Homo sapiens: one gene and its partner. The protein of the gene in region 1 interacts with the protein of each later gene in a pairwise test. Each region holds a gene or a part of one and is shown in the gene's direction. Other genes may lie near its edges.

What was found. Proteins that work in one complex are often made in the same cells at the same time.
Region 2: the proteins of SUPT20H (region 1) and ATG9A interact in binary tests that used the Homo sapiens proteins (3 or more experiments, as listed by UniProt).

Annotation. Positions count from the first base shown.
Region 1 is NC_000013.11:37,049,675-37,056,761, reverse strand, and holds part of SUPT20H (transcription factor SPT20 homolog), read left to right. Parts: intron 1-5,178; 5' UTR 5,179-5,271; coding exon 5,272-5,274; intron 5,275-7,087. UniProt on the Homo sapiens protein: Required for MAP kinase p38 (MAPK11, MAPK12, MAPK13 and/or MAPK14) activation during gastrulation.
Region 2 is NC_000002.12:219,226,637-219,234,424, reverse strand, and holds the start of ATG9A (autophagy-related protein 9A), read left to right. Parts: upstream 1-4,788; 5' UTR 4,789-4,890; intron 4,891-5,939; 5' UTR 5,940-5,991; intron 5,992-6,371; 5' UTR 6,372-6,400; coding exon 6,401-6,503; intron 6,504-6,611; coding exon 6,612-6,655; intron 6,656-7,491; coding exon 7,492-7,556; intron 7,557-7,788. Other genes in the region: tRNA endonuclease ANKZF1, read right to left, coding at 137-292, 482-710, 992-1,139, 1,234-1,346, 1,742-1,935, 2,063-2,165, 2,385-2,497, 4,020-4,167. UniProt on the Homo sapiens protein: Phospholipid scramblase involved in autophagy by mediating autophagosomal membrane expansion. Cycles between the preautophagosomal structure/phagophore assembly site (PAS) and the cytoplasmic vesicle pool and supplies membrane for the growing autophagosome.

The DNA of each region.
Region 1 (7,087 bases):
TACTTTAAGTTTTAGGGTACATGTGCACAACGTGCAGGTTTGTTACATATGTATACATGTGCCATGTTGGTGTGCTGCACCCATTAACTTGTCATTTAACATTAGGTATATCTCCTCATGCTATCCCTCCCCCCTCCTCCCACCCCAAAACAGGCCCTGGTGTGTGAAGTTCCCCTTCCTGTGTCCATGAGTTCTCATTGCTCAATTCTCACCTATGAGTGAGAACATGCAGTGTTTGGTTTTTTGTCCTTGCGATAGTTTGCTGAGAATGATGGTTTCCAGCTTCATCCATGTCACTGCAAAGGACATGAACTCATCATTTTTTATGGCTGCATAGTATTCCATGGTGTATATGTGCCACATTTTCTTAATCCAGTCTATCATTGTTGGACATTTGGGTTGGTTCCAAGTCTTTGCTACTGTAAATAGTGCTGCAATAAACATACGTGTGCATGTGTCTTTATAGCAACATGTTTTATAATCCTTTGGGTATATACCCAGTAATGGGATGGCTGGGTCAAATGGTATTTCTACTTCTAGATCCTTGAGGAATCGCCACACTGACTTCCACAATGGTTGAGCTAGTTTACAGTCCCACCAACAATGTAAAAGTGTTCCTATTTCTCCACATCCTCTCCAGCACCTGTTGTTTCCTGACTTTTTAATGATCGCTATTCTAACTGGTGTGAGATGGTATCTCATTGTGGTTTTGATTTGCATTTCTCTGATGGCCAGTGATGAGCATTTTTTCATGTGTCTTTTGGCTGTATAAATGTCTTCTTTTCAGAAGTGTCTGTTCATATCCTTCGCCCACTGATTGATGGGGTTGTTTGTTTTTTCCTTGGAAGTTTGTTTGAGTTCATTGTAGATTCTGGATATTAGCCCTTTGTCAGATGAGTAGATTGCAAACATTTTCTCCCATTCTGTAGGTTGCCTGTTCACTCTGATGGTAGTTTCTTTTGCTGTGCAGAAGCTCTTTAGTTTAATTAGATCCCATTTGTCAATTTTGGCTTTTGTTGCTATTGCTTTTGGTGTTTTAGACATGAAGTCCTTGCCCTCGCCTATGTCCTGAATGGTATTGCCTAGGTTTTCTTCTAGGGTTTTTATGGTTTTAGGTCTAACATTTAAGTCTTTAATCCATCTTGAATTAATTTTTGTGTAAGGGCTAAGGAAGGGATCCAGTTTCAGCTTTCTACATATGGCTAGCCAGTTTTCCCAGCACCATTTATTAAATAGGGAATCCTTTCCCCATTGCTTGTTTTGGTCAGGTTTGTCAAAGATCAGATGGTTGTAGATATGTGGCATTATTTCTGAGGGCTCTGTTCTGTTCCATTGGTCTATATCTCTGTTTTGGTACAAGTACCATGCTGTTTTGGTTAATGTAGCCTTGTAGTATAGTTTGAAGTCAGGTAGCGTGATGCCTCCAGCTTTGTCTTTTGGCTTAGGATTGACTTGGCAATGTGGGCTCTTTTTTGGTTCCATATGAACTTTAAAGTAGTTTTTTCCAATTCTGTGAAGAAAGTCATTGGTAGCTTGATGGGGATGGCGTTGAATCTATAAATTACCTTGAGCAATATGGCGATTTTCACGATATTGATTCTTCCTACTCATAAGCATGGAATGTTCTTCCATTTGTTTGTATCCTCTTTTATTTCCTTGAGCAGTGGTTTGTAGTTCTCCTTGAAGAGGTCCTTCACATCCCTTGTAAGTTGTATTCCTAGGTATTTTATTCTCTTTGAAGCAATTGTGAATGGGAATTCACTCATGATTTGGCTCTGTGTTTGTCTGTTATTGGTGTATAAGAATGCTTGTGATTTTTGCACATTGATTTTGTATCCTGAGACTTTGCTGAAGTTGCCTATCAGCTTAAGGAGTTTTTGGTCTGAGACAATGGGGTTTTCTAGATATACAATCATGTCATCTGCAAACAGGGACAATTTGACTTCCTCTTTTCCTAATTGAATACCCTTTATTTCCTTCTCCTGCCTAATTGCCCTGGCCAGAACTTCCAACACTATGTTGAATAGGAGTAGTGAGAGAGGTCATCCCTGTCTTGTGCCAGTTTTCAAAGGGAATGCTTCCAGTTTTTGCCCATTCAGTATGATATTGGCTGTGGGTTTGTCATAAATAGCTCTTATTATTTTGAGATACGTCCCATCAATACCTAATTTATTGAGAGTTTTTAGCATGAAGCGTTGTTGAATTTCGTCAAAGGCCTTTTCTGCATCTATTGAGATAATCGTGGTTTTTGTCATGGGTTCTGTTCATATGCTGGATTACGTTTATTGATTTGCGTATGTTGAACCAGCCTTGCATCCCATGGATGAAGCCCACTTGATCATGGTGGATAAGCTTTTTGATGTGCTGCTGGATTCGATTTGCCATTATTTTATTGAGGATTTTTGCATCGATGTTCATCAGGGATATTGGTCTAAAATTCTCTTTTTTTGTTGTGTCTCTGCCAGGCTTTGGTATCAGGATGATGCTGGCCTCATAAAATGAGTTAGGGAGGATTCCCTCTTTTTCCATTGATTGGAATAGTTTCAGAAGGAATGGTACCACCTCCTCCTTGTACCTCTGGTAGAATTCGGCTGTGAATCCATCTGGTCCTGGACTTTTTTTGGTTGGTAAGCTATTAATTATTGCCTCAATTTCACAGCCTGTTATTGGTCTATTCAGAGATTCAACTTCTTCCTGGTTTAGTCTTGGGAGGGTGTATGTGTCGAGGAATTTATCCATTTCTTCTAGATTTTCAAGTTTATTTGCGTAGAGGTGTTTATAGTATTCTCTGATGGTAGTTTGTATTTCTGTGGGATCGGTGGTTATATCCCCTTTATCATTTTTTATTGCGTCTATTTGATTCTTCTCTCTTTTCTTCTTTATTAGTCTTGCTAGCAGTCTATCAATTTTGTTGATCTTTCAAAAAACCAGCTCCTGGATTCATTGAGTTTTTGAATGAATCTTTCCACCAAATATTAGAAACATATGTACCCAAGGAGTGAGGTTTCGTTTTGTTTTTGTTTTTGTTTTTTGTATCAAATAGGCTAGATAATGTATCTTTTTTTTTTTTAATTTTAGTTTAAGTTCTGGAATACATGTGGTGAATGTACAGGTTTGTTACATAGGTATACATGTGCCATGGTGGTTTGCTGTACCTATCAACCCGTCATCTAGGTTTTAAGCCCCGCATGTGTTAGGTATTTGTCCTAATGCTCTCCATCCCCTTTCCCCCAACCCCCCAACAGGCCCCAGCGTGTGATGTTCCCCTCCCTGTGTCCATGTGGTCTCACTGTTCAGCTCCCACTTATGAGTGAAAGCATGTGATGTGTGGTTTTCTGTTCCTGTGTTAGTTTGCTGAGGATGATGGTTTCCAGAATCATTAATGTCACTGCAAAGGACATGAATTCATTCTTTTTTATGGCTGCATAGTATTCCATGGTGTATATGTGCCACCCTTTCTTTATCCAGTCTATCATTGGTGGGCATTTGGGTTGGTTCCAAGTCTTCATTATTGTAAATAGTGCTCCAGTAAACATACGTTACGTGTGTATGTGTCTTTATAGTAGAATGATTTATAATCCTTTGGTATATACCCAGTAATGGGATTGCTGGGTCAAACAGTATTTCTGGTTCTAGATCCTTGAGGAATTGCCACACCGTCTTCCACAATGGTTGAACTAATTTACACTACCACCAACAGTGTAAAAGTGTTCCTGTTTCTCTGCAGCCTCACCAACATCTGTTTCCAGACTTTTTAATGACTGCCATTCTAACTGGTGTGAGATGGTATTTCATTGTGGTTTTGATTTGCATTTCTCTAATGACCAGTGATAATGAGCTTTTTTTCATATGTTGGCCGCATAAATGTCTTCTTTTGAGAAGTGTCCGTTCATATCCTTCACCCACTTTTTGATGGGGTTGTTTTTTTCTTCTAAATTTAAGTTCTTTGTAGATTCTGGGTATTAGACCTTTGTCAGAAGGATAGATTGCAAAAAATTATCGCCCATTCTGTAGGTTGCCTGTTCACTCTGATGATAGTTTCTTTTGCTGAGCAGAAGCTCTTTAGTTTAATTAGATCCCATTTGTCAATTTTGGCTTTTGTTGCAATTGCTTTTGGTGCTTTAGTCATGAAGTCTTTGCCCATGCCTATGTCCTGAATGGTATTGCCTAGGTTTTCTTCTAGGGTTTTTATGGTTTATGGTTTTATGGTTTTATGTTGTAAGTCTTTATTCCATCTTGAGTTAATTTTTGTTAAGGTGTAAGAAAGGGGTCCAATTTCTGTTTTCTGCATGTGGCTAGCCAGTCTTCCCAGGGCCATTTATTAGATAGGGAATCCTCTCCCCATTGCTTGTTTTTGTCAGGTTTGTCAAAGATTAGATGGTTGTAGATGTGTGGTGTTATTTCTGAGGCCTCTGTTCTGTTGGTCTGTATATCTGTTTTGGTACCAGTAGCATGCTGTTTTGGTTACTGTAGCATTGTATAGTTTGAAGTCAGACAGCATGATGCCTCCAGCTTTGTTCTTTTTGCTTAGGATTGTCTTGGCTATACAGGCTCTTTTTTGGTTCCACATGAAATTTAAAGTAGTATTTCCTAGTTTTGTGAAGAAAGTTAATGGTAGCTTGATGGTAATAGCATTGAATCTACGAGTACTTAGGGCAATATGGCCATTTTCACAATATTGATTCTTCCTATCCATGAGCATGGATTTTTTTTCTATTTGTTTGTGTCCTCTCTTATTAATAAGAGGATTTTTTATCAGCAGACATGATTATATCTGTGATTTGTAAAGTGAACTGGATAGTGATCAAGCCCAGTGGGCAAGCTATTAAAATAATTCAAAGGAAAAATGAGAATAGCAACAGTAGTGATAGAGAAGAGATTTTAAAAAATGTATTTTTTTTCTCTCTGGAGATGTTAAGTATTTTTGAGAAAAGGAGTAATAATTGTAACTTGGCAAGTGTGTTTTGCCTTTCCTAGTTGAAACTACTTTTCAGCAGTGAGTGGATAGGTTGTGGTACATGAATTTTATTGTTACTCATTATTAAAAAGTGTCTTAAAAATATGTATGTCTTAAAAATATAAGTAATTTTCCTTGTTAATTATGAAATATGTAATCTCTTTTTTTTTCTCTTAATAGCCTTATGTTAATATTGGGGTTTTATTGTTTTTGCTTTTCAGTACTGTAAGATTGATGTTAAAGGCATGGTGTTCACCCCACTTCATCAGCGTACATAAGTTATCTCTTCTTTTGGACCCTTATTTTATGCCATAATGGTAAGCTTCAGCTCAGTATGTTCAAATTTGTGTTTTAGAATGTTCTCTTCCTTCATCTTCATAAAGATATTTGTATGGTAGATATAGAAATACTCTTGTAAGCTGTACAGGTTATCCCAACTGGGAAATTACTTAGCAATCCCATTGCAAAGTCTTCTCTATAAAGTATATTGCTCACTAATCAGTGTTACAGTGATCACATTCATCCATCTATCTGTGCTTGTATTTATGAAGTATTAAAAATATTTACCTATATCTACTTTGCCATATTCCAAATCGTTGGCAAGGAGGATGGGTATAAATACAAATAGTTTTGGGGAGTATAGATTTCTCGTATTTTAAAGCTTTTCTTTAGATTTTATTAAAATTTAAAAACAAATGTAACCTGCTAACTGCATATAACGTATTTCAGGCAGCATCAGTGCTAATCTTCTAATGGCACATTTCTGTTCACTGACTTACAGTCACTAAACATAGTTAGGAGTAGGCATTTAACTTTTGCCATTAAGAAATGACAGACTAAGGGAGAAAAACACTTTTTAATGTTTTAAAGAAGCAGCAGCATTTGACAGAGAATAAATGAACATTGACCACCATGTTATTTATTTAGATAACCCCTATTCTGCGTCACAAACTTCAGAAAACATCTGTCTTCCTTCTCCTCTTGGTTCTTGCCTATCTACTCCTCCCCTATTAGAGAAAAGTAGAAGTATCACAGTGGGGTTCTGACAACACCTTGTATTTTGCATCTATATTACCTAATCATTTTCCTCTTAAGTTTTTGAAGGAGATAATGAATGAATGATGCTTTTATTTATGTATGTATGCATGTCTCACTAGACCCTTTGAAGTTTTAATTTCAGAAGATGAAATATTTACTTGAGATGACTGGCTGTTTAAAATTGTCCTAGACTATATATATTTGATTTTGTTTATTATAATTTTTTGATACAAACAAATTTTATGGGCAAAATTTAAAAGAACCTTCTGTATTTGTGAAGTGTATATGTACAGAATTATGTTTTCATGGTGGAACATGGGATCAGGGAAAATGGGAGTCAGGAATCTTAACTTGAATCCTGGGAACCAGTTTCATTGGGAATCCGCTTCTTATAAGTTTTTTTTTTTTTTTTTTTTTTTGGTAGTGACAGAATCTCACTATATTGTCCAGGCTGGTCTTGAACTCCTGATTTCCCACCTTGGCCTCCCAAAGCTTTGGAATTACAGGCATGTGCCACAGTGCCTGGCCAAGATTTTTTAACAAAGCAAATTAGTGTAGATTTATTATAACTGAACGTTTTGAAAAGATGGCAGATTTCAGACTTTGTTCACTTATCATATTTAGATATTTGATAATGTGGGTTTTTTATTGAACAGTGCAAGAAGGCCCACTATTTTTGGAATTATACAAATTCTCCATCCTTAGGACTAGGTGGTCACTTAAAAGTTCCCATGATTTCCAAAGGGTGGCAGTATTTGTTTTTCCCCCTTACCCTCCTGGGACTTTGGTGGGTGGTAGGAGTTTTTACCCACATGCAATTTGGTAGGTTGAGGTATTGGAATCTGCAAAATAAGACAGAAGAATTTAAGTCCTTTTAAATAAAAACTGAAAGTTCTGTGCCTCTTAATAAAATTTAAAAATGACTATCATTATGAATGAAAAAGACTATAAAACAGAAAACTAGAAAGAAAACCACTGGTGGTATATTTGGGTTTTGTTTTATTTGTTTGTTGTTTTTGTTTTTTTTGAGATGGAGTTTTGCCCTTTTTGCCCAGACTGTAGTACAATAGCACGATCTGGGCTCACTGCAAC
Region 2 (7,788 bases), on another chromosome or scaffold:
TCTCAGTAATTGCTAAGATAGACACTGTGGGTGTGTGTTTAAATAAGGAAATGGGTCAGTTATGAGAGTAGGGAATTTGCCAGTGCATTTTTAGGACAGAAACTCAGATCTGACAGTTGCCAGATAGTAATCAAACCCTGTTTGGGAGATTCCTCATTCTGCCCCAGCGCTTCCTTTTCATCCCTGCAGATCTTTCTTATTTCTTCCTCAGTAGGCTTCTTTCTCTCCTCTCTTACTGTTTTCCAGTGTGTCTGAGGTGAGTGCAGTCTGACTGCTTCCCGAGGGTCTTCTTCTGCCATAAAAGAAAAGATCTTTCTCAACCTTAGCTGAGGAGAAGCTAGCGCAGGTTTCTCTCAATGCAGATGTAGCTGGGCTGCAGTCCAAGGCTTAGAAAATCCTCTGGATATACCAATGAGAATGGAGGCTTAGGTTGGAGAGAACAGGAAGGTCTAGGGAATTGGGATCTGGAGCAAAGGCTCACCATAGACATGCAAAGTGGTCAGCTTATGGAGCACACGCTGTAGCTCTTGGAAGGTGGGTCTGCGGGTGGCGAGGGGGATATCCCAAAGTCGGGGATCCCCCCTTTGCAGGGGTGCTCCCTTGCCTCCAAAGAACAAAGACCGGCCAGAGCGGGGAGCACGCAACAGTATTGTACCAGCCTCCTCCAGCGCCTTAGCCCAGCTTGGCCCTGCCAGCAGGTCACGAACATCCTAGAGAAGAGAGTAACTCAGTCCTGCATACCTTCACTTGCTATTTATAAATCTCCAACTAAAAAAAATGGCCCACAGAAGTGCAAGGGGTGGAAAGTAGAGGATAACACGGAGAAAGAATAGAGGACTAAGGCTCCTGGGGAATCCCTCATCTACCTTTGTCTACCTATAATGAAAATTGGAAGGATATGAGTCAAAAACCTCCCTACTTAACAGTGAGTTGAACAGAGATGCAAAAAAAGTATGGATCAGTACCACCAGATCTAAAAGGCTTAACTCACCTTATATAGTGTGGCTTCATTGTAGCGCCTCAGGTTGGCTCCAGCAGAGTGTGATGGCCCACCTCGGGCATCCCGAAGCCCCTGGGCTGTGCCCCGCTTGGCCCGAACCGTATAGCGGTGAAAAGTTTTGTGTGTCACCACTTCTCTTCTGTAGACAGCACAGACTCAGTACTGGAGACCAGCTGGTGCTCCCTGGCTAACAGGATCCACTCCATCCTTACCCCCATGCAGCACCCTCTCACCCTTGAAATATAGCACCAGCAAAGTGCCCAGCTGCAGCCATGAGCACCACGCAGTCTCTGGGACCTCTACTTTGCAGGTTCTGTAGCAGCAGTTCTGCCTCTTCTGGGGGATCCTTGATGACAGAGAAGCATCAGAAACATATCTGTTGCATTCACTGAGAGCAAGAAACTAAGGGCCAATTTTCACAAACATTATCTCATTTAATATTACCACCCTGAGGCTTGTTTCCATTTGACAAACAAGGAAATTTGAGGCTTGGCGAGGCAGTCAAGATGAAGTGGTAGAATCACAATTCAAACCTAAATTGGTTTGTTTCCAAACTTAATTCCATTACACTTAACCCTTCCACAATTCAGGCCAGTTTCAATTCAAGACTATGTTGTCAAGCGTGATACCCACAACCAACAGGAAGGAAGAGAAGCAGGGAGAAATGCACTAGGCTAAGGGAAATCTAGGCTGGGTGTACAAAAGGCTGGGGTTAGCCATGCAACCTGTACTGTCACTTGCCTGATGAGGGCCTAGGACACAGCGGTAGGCATAAAGAAACTGGCCCTGGGCATTCTGGAAAAGAACTCGATGAGGGTAAAAGCCTGGGGGTCGGCTCAACTTCTCAAATGTAGCCCTCTCCCGATCCAGTGTCTGCAAGTCCTCCTCACTGGCTGAGTCTGAGTCTTCTGATCCCGAGATGCTGGAAAGATCTCCTGAAGACAGACAATATGAGATACACAAGTTTGGTACCCCATTTTTGTTCTTTCCTCAAACTCTAAACTAGTGCTTTCTTATACCTCCATGTCCTACTCCTACATAGGTCCCCCTACCACTCATCACCTGTGGAGCTCTGCTTTTCAAAGTCCAGGGCAGACAGGAGAGGCTTGTCCTTGAGACGTTGCTTTAGGTTAAACCGATGCCAGTCAAGCTTATAATGTTCCCTCTAGTACAAAGACAAAGAGTGAGATAAAGGTGGAAATATGCCCCAGCCTGGCCTTGTACTGGCCAAGACCAGTTATAGTATTCTAGGAAGTACAACCAGGTAACACCAACTGCCTCAGTCAAAGCATGGACCTTTATTAAGACAAATCAAATGTCTACCTCTCCCCACCCACCATTACACTTTTGCTTCTAACATCTAGCTCTGCACCTGACCTATTACCTGTTCTTGGTGGTTCTGGAAGGTCTGGTCACAAGTTGAACAAAATAACTTCTCTGAAATATCCATAGGACCCTGGAGTAGCTTTCTTTCTGGGCTTTCTCTCTCCCCTGAGCCTAAATAAGGGAAGAGGAATTGGACATAGAAAGGGAGCCCAAATCCACAGTGACAAGAATTATATTCAGAGTGTGATATACAAAGCAGAGGAGGATACAAAAGAGATGGCATGATACTGCCTTCAAGGAATTTACACTCTAATAGTCATGAAATAAACAGTACAGCAATCACTTAATGCAATAAACATGCTTCTGAAAACATGTACGTAAAATGAATGTAAATAAAATAAAATTGGCCAGGTGCAGCGGCTCACGCTTGTAATCCCAGCACTTTGGGAGGCCAAGGCAGACGGATCATGAAGTCAGGAGATCAAGACCATCCTGGCTAACACGGTGAAACCCCGTCTCTACTAAAAATACAAAAAATTAACCGGGTGTGGTGGCGGATGCCTGTAGTCCCAGCTACTTGGGAGGCTGAGGCAGGAGAACGGCATGAACCGGGGAGGCGGAGCTTGCAGTGAGCCGAGATCACACCACTGCACTCCAGCCTGGGCAACAGAACGAGACTCTGTCTCAAAAAAGATGAAGAAAAATAAAATAAATAAAACGAATGTAAATAAAAACTGGCCCTGGGCATTCTGGAAAAGAATCCGATGAGGGTAAAAGCCTTGGGGTCGGTTAAACTTCTCCAACGTAGCCCTCTCCCGAGATCCAGCGTCTGCAAGTCCTCCCCACTGGCTGAGTTTGAGTCTTGTCTAATTTAAATTAGCCAAACAGATTGTTTAGGTGAATCCTAAAGAAAATAATTTCTGTTCAGTTTAAAATTATTTTTCACTGCACAAAAACTACTTCCCAAATGCTTTTTAAAGTTTACATTTCCAATTAGTGTACAGTTTGTCTAAGGAGAGGTGCAAGAAAAGATGTAGCCAAACTAAAGTTACACAAAACAGGACCGACACGGTGGCTCATGCCTGTAATCTCAGCACTTTGGGAGGCTGACCCAGGCGGATCACTTGAGGCCAGGAGTTTGAGACCAGCCTGGCCAACATGGTGAAACCCCGTCTCTACTAAAAATACAATAATTAGCCGGGCATGGTGGTGCGGGCCTGTAGTCCCAGCTACTCGGGAGGCTGAGGCAGGAGAATCACTTGAACCCGGGAGACGGAGATTGCAGTGGGTGGAGATCGTGCCACTGCACTTTAGCCTGGGCGACAGAGCGAGACTCTCAAAAAATAAAGCTATACGAAACAAATAATAAATTGTTTCATATTCAGCAAAAAGGAATAATTTGAGTGGGGCCTGGTTAAATGTGGAATACATCTGAGAATTTTATCTCTACAAAGTTTAAAGTGTTTTTGAAGGGAATGGTGTTAACGTGAGGAGATACATGCAATGGCAAAAAGACTTGTTTGAAAACAAGGGCTGTGCTGGACATTACCCAGAGATTAAGTGAATTTAATCAAGCAGAAAGATAAATCAATTGGCCTCCTAAGCTCGGGAATACCAATAAGAATGTGTTCCCTGAACGGGCAATACGCTGTAAGGAGCCCTGTCACGTTTCACACGAAACCTTCCAGGATACCTGAACAGGAAGTACGCGGAGCCCGGGCCAGAGCCTCCCCAGGCGCGTGGCTCACCAGGCTCAGGCCCTGAAAGACCGGAGCATCCGCGCTGAGGTCAAACAGGGAGATCGACGCAGGAGCCGGGGCTGCATCTGGAGCCGGCGACATGGCTGAGCAGAAATTATTTAGCAGCAGCTCCTGGAGTAGAAAGCGTGTAAGAAACAGGGCTCCTGCAAACGAGATCCTACTGCTGCGTCTCCTGCCTGCCTGACTTGGTTTCTCCTGCACCGCAAGACTTCTCGTCTCTCATCCTGCTACCAACTGTGAGATGAATACCTTGGCCCCCGTCCACTTTCTCAAACCCCCAGTCTCAGCCCACAAAAGAATGAAATAGGCATTCGGCTCCCAAATCGAGTCCAACAGAGTTAAAAATCACTGAGCTTGCCTAGCCGAACTTTCTTCGTTACCCATGCGACCAGCAACAACTGGCCCGCGTAAACTCGCCCACGCCCTTAGAAGACGCACCAAACGTCCCGGGAGCTGAGCGGCTCGCAAGTCCTCAGGTCGATTGCCGGATTTCTGCAACACAACAATCCCCGTCACTACGGAGCAGCGAAGAGGACAACCGGCGGCGTCCGCACCTGAGCCCCGCCCCACGTAGAGCACACTATTGGGCCGCTGACTGTCCAAGACCCGCCTCGAGACTTTAGTCCCGTCCCTGAAGCCGAGAATTGGCCGTTGTGTCTCCGCCCCCCGTGCTTATTGGCCAGCCTGGCTGCGGGTGACAGTGAGTGGCAGACACCCGGCCTAGCGCCGCGGGTCGCGCCGAGCCGAGCCGAGCCGAGCGGAGCCGGCGGAGCCTCTGGAATCACCCGGGTCGCTGTTCCTGAGGTAAGACGTGAGACCGGTTATTGGAATCCCAGGCCCCGTGTCTGGCCTTGCCCAGGGGTGCCTGCGGAGCCCTAAGTGAGCTCGCGGCGGGTAACGGAGGAAGGGGCGCCGCCGGCGGGGCGGGGGCGCGCAGCCGGAATGTTTTGATTGCTGGCGCGCGCAGACGGGGGCGCGCGCGGGCGCCGGGGCCGCGCGCGAGGTTGTCCGCTGTTGGGAGCTGCCAGCCCTTGGCCTGGGGCCGGGCGACCCTGGGGCGAGGTGGACTCCGGTCCACGGTCGCCGCGGCTGGGTGTGGGGAGGCAAGCCAACCCACCCGGGCTATCAGCTGTAAGGCTGACTCGATCCCTGCAACATCCGCAGGAACCCCTGAGCCCAGGCCCAGCCGGCCGGGGCTCCACGGGCCCTGGTCCACACTGACCCTGTGAGTGGTGACTTCCCTGAGGGGCAGGGCTCTCACTAGCCCAGGGAATCCCACCGGGGCCAGGCTGGGCCAAGATCCACGGCCCCCAGGGGCTGCACGGACAGGTGAGTACCACCTCGACCATGCCTGGCTTACAGGACCTAGGGAACCCACAAATTCACCTAGGATCGGGGGTCTACACTGACCCAGTCAAGGTTTCCCATCCAGAAGGTTTGCTCACCGGCTGGATCTTTGGTGCTAGGGAAGTAAGAGAAGGGGTTGACCAGAAAGGTCCTCTTCAGGAAAGACTCTTGAGGTTTTGTGGACCCTGAGAAGTATGTCATTTCTGAGGCTAAGGTAGGGCAATGGAGAAATAGTCCAGAGGCGCCCCTGGCCTCAGGTCTGTACCCACTCATTCTCCATGGGGTCCCTAAGTTACTTCTTGAGACCCTGGAGTTGGAAGAGTGGCCCGGTTTAGCACAGCCAGAGGAAGTGCTCGTAGTCCTGGGCTGGAAGGGTGCTTCTTCCCCACTGCAGCCTTCCTGCCCCATGCTTGGCCTCCTCTTGGTGGGGTGTGGATGGCTGGGAGGGTTGGGTTCCTTTTTATCCCCACTGCCCACTCTCTGGGGCCTGACATCTTCTCCTCCAGCAGCTGCAGAGCATCGAGGGCTGGAGAGGAGCACATACTGTCCATGGAGCTGGTAGGGCCATGTGCTTTTCTCAAACATTTGTTTGTGAAGTGCTTCCAAACTGTTAGTCTCTTGGGAGACCAGGGTTCCCAGGATGGGCGGGGGAGGGACTCTTCTGTCCGTTAAATAGAAGATGAAACAGCCCCCAACAAAGGGACAGATTCTGGCTTTGGGCCAGGAAAGCAGCAGTAGACACCCAGACTGGCCAGAGTTAAGGCTCCCCCAGCCCTGAGCTTACTGCCTTTCTTGTGTCACTACTCCTCTGCCTCTGAGCCAAGGAGGCTGGTAGTGGACAAAGCCCAAGGGTACTTTCTCCTTTTGGCAGTAGGCAGGGCAGCCCATGGGCAGCAGCTGGAACTGAATCAGGGTCTCTTCTTCCTCCTTATTGGCAGGTGGTCAAGGTGGACAGGGGGCGGTGGTGATGGCGCAGTTTGACACTGAATACCAGCGCCTAGAGGCCTCCTATAGTGATTCACCCCCAGGGGAGGAGGACCTGTTGGTGCACGTCGCCGAGGGGAGCAAGTGTGAGTTCTTGGATATGACAGCCATAGGGAGAGTTGATGGAAGAACATGGAGAGAGCAAGGGGCTTGTGTTCTCCCAGGGCTCTGACATCTCTGTTCCTATCCCACAGCACCTTGGCACCATATTGAAAACCTTGACCTCTTCTTCTCTCGAATATCCTTTGTGTTTCTGAGTTGGAGCTCTGGGACCTTTAATGTCTCTCTAAGCCGGGGCTCTGGTGGGAGGTGGGGGTAGGTTTGACTCTAATACCTGGAAACGGGAATGGAGCTCATCCTGAGGCTGAAAGAGGCTGGTGAAATCATCGTTAAGTAATGATAGCCCACATTTACCAAGATCTGTGTGCCTGTGTCCACTTTGTGGTGTTAATTTGTAGAAGCCTTTCTAAGGGTGAGCCTCCTTTTTTTTTTGTTTGAGATGGAGTCTGTCTCTGTTGCTGCTAGAGTCCAGGGGCGATCTCAACACACTGCAACCTCCACCTCCTGGGTTCAAGAGATTCTCCTGCCTCAGTCTCCCACGTAGCTGGGATTACAGGCACCTGCCACGATGCCCAGCTATTTTTTGTATTTTTCATAGAGACAGGGTTTCACCATGTGGCAAGGCTGGTCTCGAACTCCTGACCTCAAGTGATCCACCTGCCTTGCCCTCCCAAAGTGTTAGGATTACAGGCGTGAGCCACCACACCCAGCCGAGCCTCCTTTTTGATGGGATGTAAATAATCGTAATAAGTAACGTCTTTTGACTCATTCTGTGTCAGCTCTGTGTTAAATGCTTTACATGCATTATCTTAGACCTAATACTCCTATGAGACAAGTGTTATTTATTCCTAATGTACCACCATGGACAGACAAAAGTTTAGACAGGTTAAGTAACTTGGTAAAGTCACACAGCTAGAAAGTCACAGAGCCAGGACTTAAGCTTGAGTGTGTTGACACCAAAGTCTGTGCTCTTACCTGCTTTCTTTACTGACTACTTTTTCTTAACAATTACACGTTTATAATCTGCACCAGAAGAATGGCTTCACATGTATGCTCATCGGGGAGATCTTTGAGCTCATGTAAGTATAAGAAGGGACAGATGATGTGGTGAAAGAATACATCTTAGTCTTTCCTCTCCTTGCACTCACACTTGGCCCAACCTGCCAGTACAACTCAGTCCTAGGCTAAAACTCCGTAAACCTTTGTAGTTCAGGGACTGGGTGTGGCACCAAAACTTACAGCTTCACCTTTCTTTTTTTTTGAGATGGAGTGAGTCTCACTCTGTCGCCCAGGCAGGAGTGCAGTGGTCTT